Linked DNA regions of Homo sapiens: region 1 is linked to region 2. Evidence: fine-mapped expression QTL. A gene starts in region 2. The other region holds a variant in brackets. All regions are shown on one strand. Distances are between the middles of the regions. Region 1 overlaps PSD4 (pleckstrin and Sec7 domain containing 4). Region 2 holds the start of PSD4 (pleckstrin and Sec7 domain containing 4).

Region 1 (9,551 bases), 35 kb after region 2:
GGGATTTTGTTTTAAGAAGATGAGCTGGGCGCGGTGGCTCATGCCTGTAATCCCAGCACTTTGGGAGGCTGAAGCGGGCGCATCACCTGAGATCAGGAGTTCGAGACCAGCCTGGCCAACGTGGTGAAACCCAGTCTTTACTAAAAATACAAAAAATAGCCGGGCATGGTGGCACATGCCTATAATCCCAGCTACTCAGGAGGCTGAAGCAGGAGAATGGCTTGAACCCAGGAGGCGGAGGTTGCAGTGAGCTGAGGTTGCGCCATTGCACTCCAGCCTGGGTAACAGAGCGAGACTCTGTCGAAAAAGAAAAAAAAGATGAAATGCCTTGAAAAAGTAAGGCCAATGGGTAGGGTCAGAATATGGCCTGCAAATGCACTGTACTATTTGTGTAACTTATATGTAAATCTGAAATTATTTCAAAATAAATACAAAAAGAAAAAAAGGCAATATCCCAGAACCTTGTGAAAACCTGGCCGTAGCAGGTCCTTTTTCCTCCTGCTGAGCTGAGCAGGCATGCTCACAGATCCTCAAGGTTTCTTGAATGGCTACTGTCCTCCCCACTGGCCCCTCTGCCAACACCTCTGCCCCTCAGCTTTTCTGATGCCCATGCCCCCTCACCAGCTAACTGTGGCTTGCACCTTTACCTGTTCCCTTCATTTTCCCTTCTCCAGAGGAAGAGGTGCTCTCCACAAGCCTGTGACCAACTGTTCCCCTCAGCCGGCACACTGGCTCCTCTTCTCCTGCCTGCCACAGACCTCTCTCCTTCATGGGCCCACTGGGGCTCTTTGAGCCTATTCTCTACCCCCTTCATTATCATGCCTTGCAAACACCATCATGAGCAAAAATCAAAGCTGGTGTTAGACTCTCTTGCTTTCCATAGCTGACCCTGGCTTCCCTGCTTTCTGTGATGAATTCACGGTATGTGTGGGCTTTGCCAACTGTTCCCAGCCCTTACCAGGTTCCCATTCATACCTGGCTCTAATTCACACCTTACAAATCGGCGTCCACCCCACCTTTGCCTGAAATGGCACCTCCTAGGGCAATTGATGGCTGCAGTCATCAACTCTGATGCCTTCTCAGCCTTCTTCCGCCATCACCTCTCAGCGACCTTTGGCCTTGATAGCTATGTGATCATCTACCAGACCCTGCACCCAGGCTCAGCCTGATCTTGCCCCAGTGGCCAGGCCCTTGAGTGGGACTGCCGGGAATTGAGTCCAGCTTTTCTAGCCATCTGACCGTGGCCAGTTAGCCTCTTATGTTCTGTTTGCTTCTCTATAAAATGGGGATAATAACACTACTTATGTCACAAGGTCCTCATGAAGATTAAGTGAAATTATGCACGTAAACATCTCAGAACAATGCCTGGCACAGAAGGGACACCTGTGAGGTTAGCTATTAATTCATAGCCTCACCAGACTTACCCCACGTCTGCTCCCCTCCTCCTTTGGGCTCTGGCTTAGGCTCTGCCCTCATGCATGCCATCCTGCTTGGATGCTGGGTAGCTTTGCACTTGGCTCTGCCTTGGCCTGCAAATAACAAATCTGAGCTCAAATGAGCTTTAGCAGAAAAGGACTTTGATTGGCTCCAATAGCTGAATAATCTGTATCCAGGTCAGGTGAGGCTTCATCTCGGGCTTCACTCTGATTCAAGGCCCCTTTTCTCTCTTGTTCTTTTGGGGGCTCCATCTCCCAGGCCTATGAGCAGGAACAACCCTCATGCTTCCAAGATGGCCCCAGGAACTCTCAAGATCCATTTTCTTGGTGCAAATATAGCAGAAAGTGACTCTCTGCTTCCTGGAAGTTTCAAACTCAAATCCAGGAATAGTCTCCTGTAGCAGCCTGCCTTGGGCCGTGTGCCCATATCTGAGCCAGTCACTAGAGCCAGGGGTTTAAGGAGATCAGAGTCCACTTCTGGAGAGGATGAGAGTGAAGTCAGCACCACCAAAACATAGGGACCAGCTGTGGAGAAATTGTGAGTACTGGAAGGACAGGATAGGAGGAATGGATGATGGGGAGAAAACCGACTAATATGCAGATGCCCTTTCCTCCAAGAGGCCTTCCCTAAGTCTTCCTCCTTCAGTTTCTATTACATGAAACTCTGTAACTCTCCTCTCCTCTCTCCTCTTCTTTTTTTTTTTTTTTTTTTTGAGATGGAGTCTTGCTCGGTCGCCCAGGCTGGAGTGCGGTGGCATGATCTCGGCTCACTGCAAGCTCTGCCTCCCGAGTTCACGCCATTCTCCTGCCTCAGCCTCCCGAGTAGCTGGGACTACAGGCGCCCGCTACCATGCCCGGCTAATTTTTTTGTATTTTTAGTAGAGACGGGGTTTCACCGTGTTAGCCAGGATGGTCTCAATCTCCTGATCTTGTGATCCGCCTGCCTCAGCCTCCCAAAGTGCTGGGATTACAGGCGTAAGCCACCACGCCCCGGCCCTCTTCATTTCTTTTTGCCTCTCTGCTTCCAGAGCAACATAAACTCCCTGTGGGCAGGAACTGGGATTGTTGATTTCCACTGCTTCCCCAGGGCCTGATATCTAGAGTCGAAAGAATGCACATCTCAAAACTATGTCCTGGTTCTTTTTCTACTTTCTTGCATATTCTTTTTCAGGCAGGAGTGCAGTGGCACGATCTCAATTCACTGCAACCTCTGCCTCCCGGGTTCAAGCAATTCTCCTTCCTCAGCCTCCTGAGTAGCTGGGATTACAGGCATGCACCACCACACCCAGCTAATCTTTGTATTTTCAGTAGAGATGGGGTTTCACCATGTTGGTCAGGCTGGTCTCAAACTCCTGACCTCGTGATCCGCCGGCCTCTGCCTCCCAAAGTACTGGTGCATATTCTTTTTCTGTCTTTCCTGCTACTCCCTCTTGCTCTTCCCACCCCTAAACTATGTAGCCTCAAAGATCTTACCTGGCTGACTGCTGGGCTTTCAAGATAGTTTCTGGAAGAAGTCTCTAAATCTAAGCCTTCAACTCTCATCTCTGTTCTGAATTTCAGACCTGGAATTCTAACTGTCCACAATACATGGCTCCTCAATATATCTTCCTGAAATTACAAATGACCATACGGTACAGGTGTTACTATATTACCTGTAAGACCACACTCGGTGTCATCTCCTGCAAACTAGTCCTCTCCTGACTCCTCTGTTTCTGTGAGTGATTCTGCGATGGCTTGAGGTCATCCGTTTGCTTTGAAAGATCACACACCAGGATACATACAGAGATGTGACCCGGATGGATGGACCTTTGCCTCACAATCAGGGTAGAAGCCTCTGGTTTTCTTATTTCTTTGTCCTCCTCTGTGGTGTGACACAGGTTCAGGAGGAGGTACCCAGACACAGAAGAGATGCTTTCCCTGTGCAGGCTTGCTGACAGTCTTGCCCACCACTCCTGGCCTCCTCCCTCTACATGTCCACATTCGCTGCTCTGACCCTGAGTTGGACCCAGCTAGGAATTGTGACTTCAGTTACTAGTATTTCCTCTGAGCCTCTAGTCATGGTCATGGGCTAATCTGTATATGAAAACCCACTTGAAAGAAATCCCAGTGCTGAAGAAAGAATTGAAACATACAGATCGTTTCTTTGCTCAAGGGAGTGTGGATTTCAGTGCTCTCACTGAGCAGAGGCTGAGGGTGACCACCTTGGATCTTCCTGCAGGACACAGCCCAGAGAAACTGAGCCTGAATTTGCTGCCATGTTTTGAGGACATTATCCACGCTAGTCTCTTTCATCTGGGCCGAGGTGGGTAATTTTCCTTAGAGTCAAGTACTAGAAAAAGTTTTGCTTCTTCTAAGAGCTGGTACATTGCCCTCTTGTGAATGAGAGCCATGTATGTGACCACAACACCCTTTCAGTTGACCACTAAGAGACTGAAGGCCAATTCCGGATCAACTTTACAGCCGCCTACGGCCTGCTATACCACCCATGGCATAGTTTCTGTGGTCTGATGCTTTATTTTTTATTGCATTTTACTAATTTATGGCATGCATATCATATGAGCAGTCTCAAATCCTCCCCAGAACAAGGTGAGGAATATATTAATATTTAAAATAAAATAAACAAAATGTCAGTGTGTGTGTGTGTCTTAGGCTGGAAATTCCTTAAGGGCAGGGACCATGTCTGTTTATATAGCACCTGGCACAGTGTCAAATTGAGGCTTAACACATGAATTTTGA[C/T]GAAGAGCAGAAAGAAGCTGCAGAGACTTAGGCCTCATTCTCCCACCGATAGTCATCCAGACCAGTGTCCCCTTCCTCATGCCTGACGAATCCTTACCCCACTCCTAACCATACAGATTCACTCCCCACAGTCTACCTGGTCCTCATACCAAGCTCATACTCGCTCACAAACCCAGCCACACCCACACCTGCTCAGAGGTTCACCCCAATCACCCAGCCCACCCTTTCACCCACTGTCCCCACCGCCCTGCAAGCCCGTCCCAGGCTGGGCAGCCGCGTGTGGTGCTAGGAAATGCCACTGGCATTTGAGGCGTTTGAGGTGCTGTCCCCACACGTGCCTTGGCCCTGTGGGGGCCTCCAGCCAGGCGGGGACCTGGGAGAGGGAGGGAGAGGATAAGCCGCTTCGAAACTCCAGATGCAGCAGTTAAAAAGAGGACAGAGGCAATGATCCTTCAAATTGCCACATCTGTATAATCTGCCTTTTATTTTCTGCTTCATGAAGTTTTATTTCCTATTATTTATTCACCTCCCCGCCCTCCCCTCCCCCGCCTCCACTCCTCCTTAGCAGGCGACATGCTCAGATGGGCCCTGAGCCTTGGCCCGGGTCTGGGTCCACCCCCATTCCCTCCCTGGGGCTGGCTGCTGGGAGGAGGCACCTGCTCCCCGCTTCTCTGACTCCCTATCTTCTACTTTCCCTCCCTTCCTTGGGACATTTGGGTACTGCATCCCCCCATCATTGTGTTTCAGCCTCTAAAGTCCCCTCCCTCCATCCTCCAAGTAGACCTCTGAGAAAATGTGTATGCATCATAGGGATCATGGAGGTGAGGCCTGTTCCTAAAGCCTGTATCACTGTCACCTCCCCCAGCAGTCCTAGAACTCACAGCCAGGTGATGTCCCTGGCCCTCTCCTTTCCTCTGCTTGCCATTTCCCACTCTCCCCACCCTGGACCCTTCTCTCCCTTTTCTAGTCCTCCAACCTGTGGTTGAGGAGCTGGGCTGGTCCACCCTGGGTGCAGGGGGCTATCAAGATGGGAAGGAGGGGACCAGCCAGATGTGCAGGGAGGGGCAGCCTGTAGTCTGTTTTCAGGCCTTGGGTACCCACTGCCCCCTTCCCCACCCAGGTGTAAGAACAAAGCAGCAGCTCAGAGAGAGACCCAGGCCTTCTGGTTCTAGGCTTGTGGTCCGGTTAGATAGGTTTGGGGCAAGTCTGGAAGACGGCGGTTGGAATGGGGTGAGAGGGTATTTGGGAAAGGATGCTGATGATGTTTCATTTCTTCCTTGCCCAGCACCGCCTTACTCCTCCCAGACACAGAAGCATAGGAGGCCAGGGGAGCAGCCTTTTTCCAGGAAGACAGGTCGGACTTCAGGCTTGAGGGTTAGAGTTTGCAGTTGCTGTTCCTAGTGGCTGCTTCTTGGAGAAGACAGTGATCCCAGATAGAGGCCTGGGATGACCATGAGGGATTTTGCAAGTATTATCTGAAAACCAACAGTATTTTGTATTTTATGTGCAACTGTCTTCTGATGTTCACTTTCCCACTTTGCTCTATAGTTCTGTACAAGTCTCGTTTCTTAAGCTGTTTTTTGTTCGTTTGTTTGTTTTTGTTTTTTTTCCCCTTGGGAGCTGGGAGGAGTCCTTTTGGGTTCATCTTGTTTTCTCCTGGTGCCTACCAAAGGGAAACGTTCATAGCAGGTAGTTCATAAAAGACTTCTGAATAAATGAATGAATGAGTGAATCAACTAATGTAAGGGCTATAGCAGAATCCTCATGCCCCAGCCTATACTAACTGTGGCTAGCTGGCTGTCCTCTGGTTTCTGCCCCATCCTGGAATTTTTTGGAAGCCTGGCTTTAGCTCGGCAAGCTGAGTCAGGACCCAAGCTCCCATCAGGCAGGGTGGGGCACCAGAAGCCGAGCCACTCCCACCCCAAACACAGAGCAGATTCCAAATATGGAAATATGGTGTTTGCCTGATGGAAAATTCCCGGGGAAACTTTGGAGAAAGAGGGCTTCATACCTAAACCAGTCAGATGAGGCCCTCAATGCTTGTCACTGACCTGGGTCACTACTGCGTCACAGCGTTGAGCTGGACATTTTTCTGGCTCAAGCCATGCATTTTACAGTTGAGGTAAGTGAGCAGTCTCCTGGGGTCGCCAGAAGGGAAGGGACAGAAATCCGGTCACAACCCTACACTCCAGGTCTGGGCCCTTTTAGCAATATCCCTCAGCCAATCTCTCCCAGGGGGAAAACAAAGGCAATAACCAGGGGCCGTGTTATTATGATATGATAACTAACAAAAGTTTAATAACACCAACCAGTTCAGCCCCTGGAATAACAGACCAGGCCGACCCTTTCCCGCTGCCTCAGCAAAGAGGGTGTTTCTAGGGAAGAAATGGCTATACTTTGCAAGTAAACACTTTCATCACCTTCATGACGACAAGAGCTCCAGGCCTTGTTCCTGCCTTCTTTCTTCCTCCTTGTCTGTTTCTCTTCCTTGTTTTCCTCCGGTGGGGAAATGAGTTTCCATTCTGACCAAGCTCATCTGTTTTAAGGATAATTTCTTTCCCGCTGCAGTTAAGTCTTCTGGGTGCTCTCATTTCCCCAGGGGGATGGATATATGTGGGGGTATTAATGCTACCCACAGCTGGGGGCCTCCCCACTGGGTTCCTCTAGGAGGTGAGGACAGGGGAATGATGTGACTTTGGGGGGAGGATGAGAGGGCCTGGACTGTGAGGTCCCAATCTGTGCTCCTAGCAAGGGCTGTCTGTGGCTGTCAGTGAAGCTTGCTACCAGGCCCCCATCTCCAGCAAAAAAAAGCAAACAAACATAAAACAAACAAAAAAGACGGTATTTATAAATGAACTTGTCTCTCACTGGGGCGGCTCCGGGCGTCTGGGCAGTAGGCGGATAAGCCTGCGCCCACGAGGTCGTGTTCAGGAGCAGGAGCTCGGGCTCCTGAAACTGGAGGGGAGGGTGCCTTGTCTGGGGGAGGTGCCTTGGCTTCAGGGAGGGTGCCTTGGCTGTGGAGAAGGCAGGAGAGAGTCTGACGGGAAGAAGACCATGGAGGAGGAGGGGAAGTGGGGGGGTCTCGGAGGGGGTAGGGGAGGGAGGCGCGGTGGGGGGGTGTTGGCTTCATGCTGTTACTAGTTTGATTTATCCCTAATGAGTTCTCAGCACATGGCTGCTCCCGGCTCACTCCAGGGGCCAGCCGGCCCGCCCCGACTCTGCAGCAACAGCAGCAGCTCGCTCAGAAAAGAGCCAATTTCCACACTGCACAGTCCGCTTCACTCAGGGGGAAATCACATTTCCCCGGGAGAGCCGCAGGCAGCGCTTCCCTCCACAGCCTGGCTGGCTGCCACCGGGCACAGATGCCAAGGAGCTGGGTCCCCCACCTCCCCTTCCCTCCCCATCCAAAGCCCCTCTTGCCACCTTCCAGGAGGCCTGAGCCCCTCCACCGTGGGCCTTAGCCCCTGCTGCTTCTCAAGGGTAGGAGAAAGAGCGAGGTCAGGGGAAGGAGAGACCTGTCCGCCCTGTCTGCCTGCTCCAGCTTCTTGCAGGAAGGAGAACCAGGCACCCTCCTTCTATGTGAAGGGCATGGAGATGTAGGGATGGGGTTGGTGACAGTGGTGTGTGCCTATGAGAGTGGGGACTCGTGGGGACAGGCGTCTGCCACCCAGGAGGTAATGACCTCCAGCGTCTGTGTCCCAGTGGTCCCCAAAGAGCCGCAGGAGCTGTAGACAGTAATGAGAAGAGCAAGAAGCCAAGGAGAGGGCCATGGGGCGAGGGCGATGGGGAGAGGACAAAGGGGAGAGGGAGATGGGGAGAGGGAGAAGAGGGGAGGGTAATGGGGAGAGGGAGAAGAGGGGAGGGTGATGGGGAGAGGGAGAAGGGGAGAGGGTGATGGGGAGAAGGTGATAGTGAGAGGGCACTGGAGAGAGGGAGGAAGGATGCTTCCTGGCATTTCCTGAGGAGGTCAGGGACTCCGAGCTCTCCCCAAACATTCCCTGTCTCTTTCCCTCATTCATAGCCCTGGAGACACGAATGTCTCTCAAACAGTCGGGAAAGGAATAATTGCTGTAGACTCAGTAGAAAAGGAAAAAAACTAGAAAACTAGAAGAAGTGAACAAAGGAAGGAGATAGAGGTGAGAGAGAGGGAGTTTCTTCCATGAGAACCATAGCCATGGCGGCTCGGTCACTTGGCGTCAGAAGGTAGCACAGCAGCCTGGGGCAGAGGAGCCACCAGCTCCTTTATGGAACATGGAAGGCTTTATGACCTTAAAGGTTAGAGAGGGGCTGCCAAAGGGCACCCTGAAGGGAGATTTAGGGCCAAGGATGGAGGGAAGTCTGAGATCAGCCTGGCACAAATCTGCCTGGTCCCAGTGCTTCTTCAGTTGAGCTCTGGGCCTTGCGTCCAGTCACGCTTTGCAGGGAGGGGCAGCAGAAGTCACTGTGCCCCAACTGGCCAAGTGACTTCTGCCGCCCCTCCCTGCAAAGCAAAGAGTGTCTGACATCTCTCAGAAGCCTGGCCATATCCAGATATCTGAGGCCTGACAATAGGATGCAGACTAGGCCTTGGATTAGGGGTAAGGCTGTGGTCCCTGCTCCTCTGCTGACTCGCTGAATGACCTTGAAAAAGTCAAGTTATCTCTTGGTCTCAGATTCCCCAAGTGCAAAATAAAAGGGGGCCAATATTCAGAATCAGAGATGTAAATGGATGTGAATGGGCTTTGTATGGAAAAAGAAACTAAGCCTGTGGAGAGGGTTATTACCACTTCTGAGGCTGAGGCAGGACAGAGATGCTGTTAAGCTGTGGGTGCAGGAGCTGCCTAGGAGGGAGCTCAATCCCTCCCTCCCCGCGGCCTCCCTCAGTCCTGATTGACAGGACTGATGCTGACGCCCAGGCCCAGTAGTAATGGCGTTGAGGTCTGCAGTCCCCTTCCTCTGGTGCCCACCCCCAGAGGACAAGGAAGTGTGAATTATCTTAAAGAAGGCTCATGGGTTTTTGTTTTGTTTTTGTTTTTTTTTGAGATAGAGTTTTGCTCTGTCACCCAGGCTAGAGTGCAGTGGTGCGATCTCAGCTCACTGCAACCTCCGTCTCCAGGGTTCAAGTGATTCTCCTGCCTCAGCCTCTTGAGTAGCTGGGATTACAGGCATGCGCCAACATGCCTGGCTAATTTTTGTGTTTTTAGTAGAGACGGGGTTTCACCATGTTGGCCAGGCTGGTCTCAAACTCCTGACCTCATGATCCACCCGCCTCAGCCTCCCAAAGTGCTAGGATTACAGGCGTGAGCCACAGTGCCTGGCCAGGAAGCCTCATGTTGGTATGGATGGGAAAGGTGTGTGTATTTTGGGTGGTGGAAGTGGGAGGATGGTGAGGGCAGGTGG
Region 2 (12,984 bases):
TTCATTGGTGGCCTCTCTCCTCTCTCCCCTCGCCTCCCAGGAGGGGCTGTATGCTGAAATCCCCAGGGCCCCTCTCCTGGAAGGTGGGCTCCACTCCCTGGTCTGTGCTCTGTGTGGAGAAGCCACCTGTGCTGAGCAGCTTCTTCTGCAGGCAAACAGGAAGCATCTTACCTTGAGGGAGGCAGGAGAGCTGCCTGGCTGTGCTGTGTGTCTGCTGTGTTGTGTGTCCTCTGTGCCGTGGGGAGGAGGAAAGGCTGGGGAGGGAACTCCCAACACACACACACACACACACACACACACACACACACACACACACACACCCCGTACATATGCAAGACCCACTGCGTGGAAGCAACGGGGAGAGGCAGGTCCCATTCCCTTTAGTACAGTCTTGAAGAGAGGCTGAGCAACCTTTATTCATTCATCAAATGGCTGTGGAGCAATTGTGAGCCAGGCACTCCGCTGTAAAGCACATGGGCCAGTCCTTGCCCTGGAGAAGTTCATGGTCAAGGGGAGGATGGGAACCCATAACTAAGCCAAGCGGCAGGCCTGGACTTGGGGAAGGGGGAAGATCACTGGTGCCTCCCTTTCAGCCTCAGGAAACCATGGATTACCAGGAAGTCTGGACGGGACGGGGCAGAGCCCGAACTTGAGGAGGTGACACTTCACCTCTTGGTCTCCTGGCTTCTGCCTCCGCATCTGCTGCCAACCCCACTTGTCCATAACCTCTGGCCATGTTCAATATAGATCACTTTCGCTTCTAATCTCCTCCACTTTTCAGCAGCAATCAACCAAGCCAACCACTTCCTCCGTCTGAAGTAACCTCCTCTTGTCTTCTGTGACAACATGGCTCTCCCCTTGCTTCTCTCACCTTTGTGACAGTCCCTTTTCAGTCTCCTTTGCAGACCTGTCCCCTCCCATCCCAGGTAGGCACCACCTTCTCTCTCCAAGCTCAGATGGGCTCCAGGTGCGTTTTTCAGTTGCCTACTTGAAATATCTCACAGGTAGTTCAAATCCAATATTTAAAAATTAAACTCTGGGCCGGGCATGGTGGCTCAGCCTGTAATCCCAACACTTTGGGAGCCCAAGGTGGGCAGGTCACCTGAGGTCGAGAGTTCAAGACCAGCCTGACCAACATGGAGAAACCCCGTCTCTACTAAAAATACAAAATGCGTGGTGGTGCATGCCTGTAAACCCAGCTACTTGGGAGGCTGAGGCAGGAGAATCGCTTGAACCTAGGAGGCGGAGGTTGCTGTGAGCCAAGATAGCACCATTGCACTTCAACCTGGGCAACAAGAGCGAAACTCCATCTCAAAATAAATAAATAAATAAATAAATAAATAATAAATAAATAAATAAAAGTTAAACTCTGGATTTTCTCCCCTGAGCCTCATCTCCCAGTTCTTTCCTATTTCAGGAAATGCCATTATTACTGCCCATCTGGTTGCTTAAGTCAGAAATCTGGAAGTTGCCCATGACTTCCCCTCCCATCTTGTCCCCTCGAATATAATGAAAGAGCAGGTTCTATAATCATCCCCCATATGCATTCCCAGCCCTATGCCTCTCTTCTTTGCCGTGACTGCCCCAGCCAAGCCACTCTCCCCCATTGCCTGGACTCTCACAGAGCCTCCTGACTGGTCTCCTTGAACTTACGTAGCCTCTACCATCTCTTCTCCATACAGCAGACAGGTCCATCTATTCTCCATATAGCAGATGGATGATCTTAAAAGTAAATACACAAATACTCTTTGACCTGTCATTTCTCTGCTTTAAAAATGCACCCTGGGGGTCAGGCATGGTGGCTCACGCCTGTAATCTCAGCACTTTGGGAGGCCAAGGTGGGCGGATCACCTGAGGGCAGGAGTTCAAGACCCAGCCTGGCCAACATGGTGAAACCCCATCTGTACTAAAAATACAAAAACGAGCTGGGTGTGGTGGCACACATTAGTAATCCCAGCTACTCGGGAGGCTGAGGCAGTAGAATCGCTTGAACTCAGGAGGTGGAGGTTGCAGTGAACCAAGATCTCGCCATTGCACTTCAGCCTGGGAGACAGAGCAAGACTCCATCTTAAAAACACACAAACAAACAAGGCCAGGCGCTGTGGCACATGCCTGTAATCCCAGCACTTTGGGAGACCAAGGTGGGCGGACCATGGGGTCAGGAGATCGAGACTATCCTGGCTAACACGGTGAAACCCCGTCTCTACTAAAAATACAAAAAATTAGCCAGACATGGTGGCGGGCCCCTGTAGTCCCAGCTACTCTGAAGGCTGAGGCAGGAGAATCGCTTGAACTCAGGAGGTGGAGGTTGCAGTGAGCCGAGATCGCACCACTGCATTCCAGCCTGGACGACAGAGTGAGGCTCCATCTCAAAAAACAAACAAACAAAAATGCACCCTGGGCTGGATATGGTGGCTCATGCTTGTAATCCCAGCACTTTGGGAGGCCGAGGCAAGTGGATCACTTGAGGTCAGGAGTTTGAGACCAGCCTGGCCAACGTGATGAAATCCTGTCTCTACTAAAAATACAAAAATTAGCCAGATGTGGTGGCAGATACCTGTAATCCCAGCTCCTTGGGAGGCAGAGGCAAGAGAATTGCTTGAACCTGGGAGGCAGAGGTTGCAGTGAGCTGAGATCATACCACTGCACCCCAGCCTGGGTGACAGAGTGAGACTGTCTCAAAAAAAAAAATGCACCCTGTCTTGCCACTGGGGTGCCTGTGGGATCTGGCCCTGCCCCTCCTGGCCCCATCTTTTCCCACACCCCCTGGGACCCTGGGACTGCGCTGCACCACACTGGCTTGCTTTCTATTCCCTGGAAATGTGGAGACATTTCCCACCTCAGGGAAGGAATTAGAAGCCGAAAATGCCCTTCCATACTGGACCCTCCTCACCAGGACATGGTGCAGCTTCAGAGACCTTCCCGAATTCCCACGGCAGTGTGCTCACCCTTGCTGCTCTCTTATTTCTCTCTGCTTCTTCCCAGGCATTCTTCACAATTTATGATAAAGTTTGATTCATAAGTCCGATTGTTTATTTTCTTTCTCTGTCAGTAGACTGGAAGCTCCCTGAGAACAGGAGTTGTTCTGCAGTAGACAGGCCTATGCAAACCTACCCCAAAGTCTGAGGAAGTTGAGAAGTTGAAGAAAGAGGCTGAGAAAGCTAGGGGACTTTCCAACAGAAGCCATGTAGGTGTCTCAGGCGGCAATGAGATGAGATGGTGGATCCCCGCATTAGCACCCAAACCCAGGGCTCATATACCATAGGGTAGGAGTGGTTCAGATGGGATTTATAAGACAATTGAAGTGTGATATCATCAAGGTTGTTTGACCTACGAGTAGCACTTACGGACTTACAGTAAGTATCTGCTCTTACACAGGAAACAATAGATAAACTGGAAATTGTAGAGGCCCTGCCTTGGAACTGGGGTCACTCAGTTAAGTCAATGTGGCAGGTTAGCTTCCAAGATGGAGTTGCTTCAGCTTCCACAGGGGTCATGTGTTTTATTCCTGATAGGTCAGCGGCTTGTAGCATAGAGCCTGCACAGAGCAGGTGCTGACTTTGAGCCTTGGCCATGTTCCGGAGACACCCCTAGCGGCTGGGGCCCAGAGTGGAGGGTTTGCATTTAGGTCTTGGTGACTTCAGGTTTCTGACTTACCCAGCTTGATGGAGAGAGAGAGTTGTAAAACCTGAAATATATGAGGAAGAAGAGCTTGGAGAAGAGAAGGAACCAGGTTTGCCTTATAAACATTGAGTTTGAAGTGCTGGTGAGATAAGCATGTCCCCAACATTTGCCAGCCCTGGGAAGTGGAGAGTGGAGGACCCCATCTGATATGTCCAAATACATGAAAGTTAAGACTAAAGCTCACAAACTGTCATATAAAATGTGTCCTGCCGGGTGCGGTGGCTCACGCCTGTAATCTAGCACTATGGGAGGCCGAGGCGGGCGGATCACCTGAGGTTGGGAGTTCGAGACCAGCCTCGCCAACATGGAGAAACCCCGTCTCTACTAAAAATACAAAATTAGTCGGGCGTGGTGGCGCATGCCTGTAATCCCAGCTACTTGGGAGTCTGAGGCAGGAGAATCACTTGAACCTGGGAGGTGGAGGTTGTGGTGAGCCTAGATGGCATCACTGTACTCCAGCCTGGGCAACAAGAGCGAAACTTGGTCTCAAAAAAAAAAAAAGTGTCTATTCTCCTAATTCTCCTACCTCCCACTTTCATCATGGCCTGGAGCTCCAGGTTTGAAGGAGGATTCTTAGCCGCCTCTGAATGTTGCTGCCACAGCACAGCCCACCCCAGCCTTTGGCCCACGCCACAGCTCCACCTCCCTTTCTCTTCCCCACCCTGCTCTGTATCACACGTGCATGTGGGTGGGTGACCTGCCCAAAGGTTTGAGCTCTCTCTACCTGCTCCCGTCTCTGCTATCAGGACTCTTGCCAGCGCTTCACCCAGTCTCAGGCTGCATAGGGCAGCGGTGCTGTGTGCCCACATGGGGAGGAGGCCATTTGGGCCCCAGAAGTGGAGAGTCTCGGGATCTGGGGCACGCAGAGTGTGGTGGAGAAGCAGGGTGCACGGGCTCCATGTTGGTATGTTCCTGTGGACTCTGTACCCTGCAGGGAGGGGTGCGGCTGTAGGTGAGCTAGAGCCCGACCCTCTCAACTCTGGGTCAGGGTGGCTGGTCCCCACTGCTGTGTGGACATGCAAGTGAGGGAGTCTCTGGGTCAGCTGGAATCATGAAGACGAGAGTTCAGGGAGGGTGGGAGTGGTGGAGCCTCAGCAGAGAAGTTGACGGTCATTGATGTTGAGGAAGTAGATTGTGTGGAGGGAGGAGAATGGCATGGTGTTTGCGCTCCCCACCAGCCTCACTTACACTTGTGGACACTGCGGCCGGTGTCCTGAGGACGTGTGTTGGGAATTCAGCCACGGGGAATGGAGGTCCCTTGGTTCATATAGTCACAGGCTCTGTATTCTAACCCCAGCTTTGTAATTTTCCAGCTGTGCAACCCTGGGCAGTGGCTTAGCATCTCTGAGCTTGCCTCCAGATCCGGATCTGTATGATGGGGTTATTAATGCTTCATAAAGTAGGTGTGAGGAGGGATTGAGGTACTATTGGGAGAAACTTTGTAACTAAAAGGCAATTGTATCATTTGCATTATTACCAGTGACATGAGACATAGTCACACAAAAATTGAAATGTCATTTGTTTTAAAACCAGAAATTGCCCAACTTAGGGCCCTCCTGTCTCTCACTGGGTGCCCTGCAGGGGACCAAGAGCCAGAGCAAGACTGAGAACCTGGGGCAGAAGCGCAGGGAGGAAGGAGGTGGGGCCTGCTTACCAACCAGGCCTCGGCCCCTTCCCCTTTCAATCCCAGGCCCCTGCATGGCAGGGAGAGGCCAGTTCCACCATGGCAGGTTCTTTCTAGGCTGGTGTGCAGGGTGGGGGCCTCCAAGGAGCAGGGGCATGGGGAAAGGGGCTGCAGGCGCTGGGCCTAGGAAGAGAGGCTCTTATCTTGTGGGCAGGAAGTGTGAGGTGTTGAGCAGCTAGGGAACCCTGGGGAGGCGGCGGGGAGCAGGAGGGGTGTGTGTTGTGGTGAGGAGGAGCGGAAGTCGGAAGCTCCAGCCGTCACAGCCACATTCACTGGGCAAGCCGACTGTGAGCCAGGAAGTGCTCTTGGGGAGCCCAGGCCAAGCCATCCATTCTTGGGTCCTTTGGAGGTGAGCTAAGTGGGTCTGCCTAGGTTGGGGCTGGTGGAACCTGTGGGAGCAGGGAATGTGGAGAGTCACATGTGGGTCCTTGTGGCAGGGGCTGGGGCAGGTGGGCAGGGGAGAGGCGAGGGCTCTGGCAGTGCCGTGTGCACCTGCCATGAGCCTGGGCTAGGCTAGGCCCCTCCTTCCCCCTTCCTGCTCTGTGTCCCGTCCCCCTCCTCCCTCAGCCTACCCCTCCTCATCTGACCCTTCTCTGATTCCCTGCCCTGGCCCCACGGACCTCTGTTGTTTCCCTTCCCTGGCTCCCCGCAGAGCCTCTGGAGGTCTGCAATAGTGAAGGGTGAAGGAAGCTCCTTGCTAATCCTCTTGTGAGTGTCACTGCGTCCCCAGTGACTGCTCTGGCTGAGTACCCAGTGGGGGCTTTTGTGGCCAAAGGTCCCAAGTGATTCTCGACCCTAGACTCTGGAGAGAGGGAGTCTGGAAGGCCTGGGTTTGGGGTGGGGGTGGCTCTGGGTGTGGTTGCTGCAGGAGCTCAGAGTCAACTTGGCCATCAGGGGGCTCCCAGCTTCATCTTGCCTTCCAGGACCATCCTGGAGAAGCTCGAGGAGAGGTAAGGGGACCCTCCTTACTGGTTTAGCTCTGGCTTAGGCCTGTTGTCCTGATGGGCAACAGGAACCACTGAACTCTCAAAGTGTGCCTGTGTAGGAAACTAAGGCCCACTGTAGTCATTATTGTTATAGTGAAGGTAGCTGCATGGAGGGAAAGTCCCCTGACACTGCCATTCCCCCCTTATTCCAGGGCCTAAAATTCCACAGTTGAAGTCACTCCTCTGCTAGAATGCAGGGAAGGGTGGCCTGTCATTAGCTGATGATAAATACTCCTCCGTTCATTGGACCTTGGACCAGCTTTAAAAAGTGGTCCCCAAGCAGGCCTGTCTCCCAGCTGCCTAGGACTCTAGAGCATCCCGTGGCCCCCTCCTCCTACAGACAAGGAACCGCCTAGCATGGGGATCAGAACACAGGCTGCTGAGCTCTTTGTTGGGGAAGGGGGAGAGACCCACAGAAGGGGTGAGGGATGTGGGGTGAGAGGACCCAGGGAGGAGAGGCCCAGCCTGGCCCCAGCCCCCTAGGGGTCTTTGTCCTCCCCAGGCAGCAGCTGTACTGGGTCCCCTTTGTCATTCTGTCCCTACCCCCGTGATCTCTCCCCTGGATACTCTCTGCCTACCTCAGACCGCCATCCTCTGCTCCCTTCCTGAGCCTCTGCTGGCCTCACCACAGGCCTTCAGTAGCACTGTCTTCTCTCTCTCTCTCTCTCTCTGTGTGTGTGTGTGTGCGTGCAAATTTGCATGATGGCTCTTTCTGTGTGGGCAGGATGTGGGGCCTTCTCGAGTCATTTCTCTCACGGTGCTTCAGACCCCAGGTTCAGACAGAGGCCTCTGTCCTGCAGCTCCAGGCCAGGGAGTTCCACTCATGGTTCCTGCCTGCAGCAACATCTGTAATTCGGCAGCTTCTCGGGCTGCAGAGGGACAGGACAGGTCACCTCCTAAGTCCTTGGACCGGCCAGAAGCCTTCATACCTTTTCCATAGGAGGGAAAACATTTCCAGGGTAAAAGGAGGGAGCGTTTGCTTGCTGAGTCTGGAAGCTCAAAAAGGGAAACAGAGACAGGCACCCTCCGGATGAAGGTTCAGGGCTGACTCCTTGAGGAGGCTGAGAGCTGAGCCTGACCAGGAGGGCTATTTGTTTGTTTTTGTTAATTTTGGCTTCTCTAAATGGACAGCAAAACAACAAAATTAAACTGAGCAGGACACGGTATTTCCTGAGCACCCACCAAGGGCCAGGCCCAGCACTCAGACCCATTCCAACTTTACAACAAACCTGTGAAGTATAGCTTTATTGGGTCTTGGTTCCTTATTTTACAGAAAAGGAACCAGGTGGAGTTTTTCACCCAGAGCCACATGGCTTGTCAGCTGTAGAGTTAGGATGGGATTCTGCTCTGCATTCTTCACTATGACCCTGAAGTGGGCAAAGGAGGGTGGTCAGTGCAGGGCACCCAAGGCCATCACCTTCCTACTCAGGGCAGGCTCATACCCCAGCCTCTGTGCCCGGTCTCCCCGTTCTTCAGCCAGGGTACAAGGCTGCAATGCCAGGCTGAGGGTGAAAAACAAACTCACTGTTAGAAAGCACCGTCCGGGTGCCAGGTGTCAGCTGGGTTCCTTCCTGCCCCCTTGGGTCAAAAAGAAATTGCCTTGAAGCCGGGGGTGGGGCAGGTGGGAGGGACTCTGCCTTCTAGTCCCTCAGCCATTGCTTTCTGTGTGTTTCACCTCCCACAAGAGGGACATAAGGCTTAGCCCTTGCAGTATTCTCCATGAGAAACATACACCCCCTCCCCACCGTGGTGAAGATTCTCTGAAATGTAGTCAGCTGTGCTCAAGAAGAGTGGCTGGTTGGCAGCAGAGTGGAGCAGTGCTCTCTCTTCCCCACCTCGGCTCCCTCCCCTCTGAACCCTCCTTAAACTTTCAGAGCCACCTCAGAGCTCAGAAAAACTGAAGGGCCACTTTAATGTAGAGGTAACAGAACTCAACTGATGTGACAGGTGGCGATTCCTTTGCTGCGAATTCCTTTCCTTCTGCTTTCGTTCTGGTTGGGATAACAGACAGGAGATTTCAAGAGAGATTTTGCTAAACACCAGGGGTGGAAAAACACAAGTAAACCAAGAAAATTTTAGATGCGTAAGACCTGGGCTCTGCTGCCCAGTTTCTGGCCTGCCTCTGCCTAGAGGGTGCCATCCTACCTCAGGGATCAAAGGCTAGTTCCATCCTCCACCCTTCTGAGATCAGACCGCCCTCACCTGGGTGACCGGTAGGACTGCCTTTTTGGCCTTAGGAGGTGACTTCACCTTTTAGGTCATCCTACCTTTCCATTCAGGCAAGAGCAATTAAAAAACAGAAGGAAGACATCTTTTAAACACACAGTTACACAGTGCCCCCTGCACAAATGGAGAGCACAAACAAGACAATTGAATGGGTCCTCCTTTCTGTTCGGGTTGCTGCCTGGGAGCCAAGACCCACAGGGACATTTTGGCTGCTGACCTGGTAGGAACCTACCTCTGGGGGAGCACTGCCCTTGGAGCACTGGACTTCCTGGAGAGGGGAGGATGAGGTGATTGGTCATGGGCAGACTGGCCCCCGTGGGGAAGCCTTCATATTATAATGATGCTAATTCTCTTCTCCAAGCCTCGGTCTTCCCCGTCTTCTGGCCTGGTTGTTGTGGAGGGAGAGTTCTGAGGATCCATCCCATCAGTGTGTCTCTCCATTTGTCTGTCCATTCATCTAGCCATCCCCTCTCTTATTTTCACAAATGTTCTACAACGCCGACTCTCAGTCAAGGAGGCGCTGTACAGGAGTTTGAGTGACTCAAGTGAATTCAGGAATGTCCAAGAGAATTGATCAGTGGGGCAGGAGGAGAGAATGATGCTTAAGAGAGCTGTAACCTGGGTTCGCACACCAGCTCAAGTCACAGGGGGGCCTGAACCTCTTACGTCAACGCTAACCTTTAAGTTTCTAATCCACTTGAACTAAACCCCTCAAGTCAATGCTGATCTTTAAATTTCAAATCCAGTTGAACTAAAGTATGCCCCCAGACCTTGTGGGTCGGAGTGGTTGACAAATCAGTTACATAATGTGACTATGCCATTCAATATTTTCATACTGAGACACAGTGGCGAACAGGAAACATAAAGAACCTGCCATCTTGGTGCTTACCTTCTAGGCAAACTAGAACCACGCGGGTAAACACACTGGCAACTACACACCGGGATAAACGCTCAGAAAGTAAAAGCGAGGGGTGGAGTATAGTCACATTGAGTTTAATTGGTTTAAAAAGTCATAGCCGGCCAGGTGCTGTGGCTCATGCCTATAATCCCAGCGCTTTGGGAGGCCAAGGTAGGTGGATCACCTGAGGTCAGGAGTTTGAGACCAGCCTGATCAATATGGTGAAACCCCATCTCTACTAAAAATACAAAACTTAGCAAGGCATGATGGCGGGTGCCTGTAGTCCCAGCTACTTGGGAGGCTGAGACAGGAGAATCGCTTGAACCTGGGAGTCAGAAGTTGCAGTGAGCTAAGATCATGCCACTGCACTCTAGCCTGGGTGACAGAGCAAGATACCGTCTAAAAAAAAATGTCGCAGCCAGTCAAACTACATGCCTTGTCCCCACTGAATACCTGATCTGTCTCCACCCTTCCTGTCTCCATTGCCTTGGGCTCCCCTCCACTGACCAGTTCCTCACCCCCACCCCTCCCAGGCTCCTCAGGTGCTGCAGGCCCCAGAGATCTGCTCTCTTCTCTTTGCTCGGAAAGCTGCTGCAGCCTCTGGTATTTATTTTTTTTCCTCTGAAAAAACCCAGCAAGGAACGCTGGTTTTTTTCTGGGAAGGCAAGTCCAATCCTCACTTGTATCTAGTATCAGCATTAGCGTGTACCTAGAGGGCTGCTTTATGTACATATACATATCTATTTGCAAGTACATATGTGCAAAGAGAGACAAGTGGGGTTTCCTCTCATCTTATGAAAAATTCAGGATGTCCTTTCTAGCAGGCCCAGCCCCGCATTCCCACTCCCATTCCCATATTGGCACGGGAACGTTTCTTGCCAAGTGAGTTGACTGATGGTGAGAGAAGGTGGGTTGGCGTTATCCTGGCAAAATGCTCTGGGGCTCATAGGGCCATGAGGCTGGCACTCATTCAGGTACAATGTGTGGAGTTGGGTGAATGAGAACAGGAGAAGGGATCAGGGATTTTGCATGGCAGGAGAACTATTTGGGCCCAAAGACCAGGACTTTACAGAGACGTGGAGGGTGGCTTTGGGGTCTGGGAAGGGAGGCAGTTGAGTAGAGCTAGGGATGTCCTATGTTCTGGTACCTGTAAACCAGGTGCTTCTCCCCAGCTTTCCCCTCTATCTCTAAATAAACATGTCTTCCTAGTCATTTATTATACCCCATGGGCTGGTGTCTTGAGGAGGCGCAGTGGGATGTGGTGGGGTGAGTCACCTCCTTGCTCACACTCGGTTGCTCTCCACCAGGCAGGTTTGGGGAGGGAGATTTGGGGTCCAGGGTGTTTTCCCTAGTATAGACAATAGATCCTGAGGCTCCTCATCCCTTCTGCCTTAGAAGTAGAACCGTCTCAGGCCTCTTGCCCAGAGAGCACTGAGGGTGACAATGGGCAGCTGCATGGGGAGCAGAGAGTGGTATGGACTTAAGGAGTAAACCATACAAATCCTCTGCCTGTTACCTGGAGGTAGTGGTGGGAGGTGGAGAGGCAGAACCTAGAATGATGAGTGAAGGCTGGATCCATAGGAGAAGAATGAAAGGCAAGACTGTTAATGGAAAGGGATTCCAATCCAGACCCCAAGAGAGGGTTCTTGGATCTCGTGCAAGAAAGAATTCAAGGTGAATCCATAAAATGAGGGCAAGTTTATTAGCAAAGTAAAAGAATAAAAGAATGGTTACTCCATAGGCAGAGCAGCGCTTGGGCTGCTGGATTAAGGATACCCGTATCTTGAGCCGACCTCTTATCTCATCCTGTGACTTAGAATGCCTAGCTTCCCGGGAATGCAGCCCAGTAGGTCTCAGCCTTATTTTACCCAGCCCCTATTCAAGATGGAGCCACTCTGGTTCAAACATCTCTGATGAGACCAAATCTGGTCCATTTGATTCAGAGCATCAAGTACAAGATTAAACATAAGAAAGGGCCTCTCCTCTCGGAAAGTCAGCCTGTTGGGGAGGCTGCCTTAACTAACAGGTGGAAGGGCCCTGAAGGCCGGTCAGGGACCATTCCGGGTGGGCTGGAACATCAGAATCCTGAGGGTGTCATCCAGCAAGTCTAGATTCTTGTTATTCTAAAACAGGAATGCAAGGGTTGGGTCAGAGGGAGGGGTAAAAACCCAGAAAGAGATTTCTTTTGGAGGCACTTTTAGAAAAAGGATACTTTCAAGGTGAATAAGAAACTGAAATGCATACTGGCCCTCCTTCCTTCTCTCAGGTGCCCTCCAGAAAAAAGGCGTGGGGCAAAGCAATGTTTTCTAGGTGACCTTGAATAACAGCTGGACCCCCTGACCTTCGTGAGAGAGCGCTGAGGGTTACCATTTACTGAGTGTCTAACAGTGGGCCAAGCCTGGGCTGAAGGCCGCGCGAATCACCTCCGTTAACCCTAGCTCCCCACTGCAGTGGGGCTCCCAGATGCTAAGGAACTTTCCAGGCTTATCCACTCAGTTGTATGTGGCAGGACGAGGGTTTGAGCTGCAGTCCATGTGGCTATTGATTCAGCTTATGTTCTCTAGTGCTGGGCAGGGAGGAGCTGACCCCCATGGGTTTGTTATGTGTGCTGGTTAGGGCCCTGCATGCCAGTCAAGCTCCTGTCCTACAGCCTGCCTGTGGGAGGATCTCAGTGTGAGGTCTGGAGCCCTGGACGAGGCCACCTGGGCTCACTCTCTTCATACTGGAGCAGGGAAAGGGCAGAGAGAGCTGCAGACCGGAAGGTGGATGGTCTGGGGTCGGAGTCCGGCCCCTGTCACCAGCTGTGAGTCATTAAGCCAGACTCAGGCTAAGGCTTCCTCATCTGTTAAACAGCGACACGCAGGGGACTGCTCATCTTTCAGGTGCGAGGTTGGGGGAGTGGTGGGTGGGGACAGGCATGGTTAACTGCATGTGGAAGGGGCTGTTGTTCTTGGGTATCTGGAAGTCACACGTGGTTATAAACTGGGAGCATGTGTGTGTTTGTTAATAGTCTTGCTCCCCAAAATATTCTAATATAGCTCACAAGCACGCACGTAAGCCTTCAAGATAGAAATCTGTGAGTGAAGAAAATGAGGCAAAGGGAAAATAAGAAAAGACAGCTGCTGGGTGCAGCGGCTCACACCTATAATCCCACCACTTTGGGAGGCCAAGGTGGGCAGATCACTTGAGGTCAGGAGTTCGAGACTAGCCTGGCTAACATGGTGAAACCCCATCTCTACTAGAAATACAAAAAAAAAAAAAAATTAGCAGAGCATGGTGGTAGACGCCTATAATTCTAGCTACTCGGGAGGCTGAGGCAGGAGAATCGCTTGAACCCAGGAGGCAGAGGTTGCAGTGAGCCAAGACTGTGCCGCTACACTCCAACCCGGGTGACAGAGCGAGACTCTGTCTCAAAAAAAAAAAAAAAAGACAGCTGCCAGGGGAGTGCTTACGACATGCCATAAGGACCTGTGTACTTGACCCTGCACTTCCACTTTGTGGAGAGC

The links. PIP is the estimated chance that this variant, and not a neighbour inherited with it, causes the effect.
Region 1: its variant is the best candidate, but not a certain one, in a credible set for the expression of PSD4 in fibroblasts (GTEx, PIP 0.50).

Annotation. Positions count from the first base shown.
Region 1 is chr2:113,205,326-113,214,876 of GRCh38, forward strand. PSD4 (pleckstrin and Sec7 domain containing 4) reads left to right here. Exons shown (of 17, transcript NM_012455.3): 17 at 1-4,066. Among named protein-coding and RNA genes, the nearest start is that of PAX8-AS1, 26 kb to the right of the region's middle. RefSeq lists a silencer at 6,867-7,161. The variant C/T (reference allele first, on the strand shown) is at 4,173.
Region 2 is chr2:113,168,338-113,181,321 of GRCh38, forward strand. It overlaps PSD4 (pleckstrin and Sec7 domain containing 4), which reads left to right and starts at 5,634. Exons shown (of 17, transcript NM_012455.3): 1 at 5,634-5,717. LOC124907872 (a long non-coding RNA gene) reads right to left here and starts at 7,431. Exons shown (of 2, transcript XR_007087197.1): 1 at 6,933-7,431; 2 at 3,011-3,688. RefSeq lists enhancers at 3,976-4,476, 4,477-4,977, 5,207-5,276, 5,327-5,496, 6,117-6,206.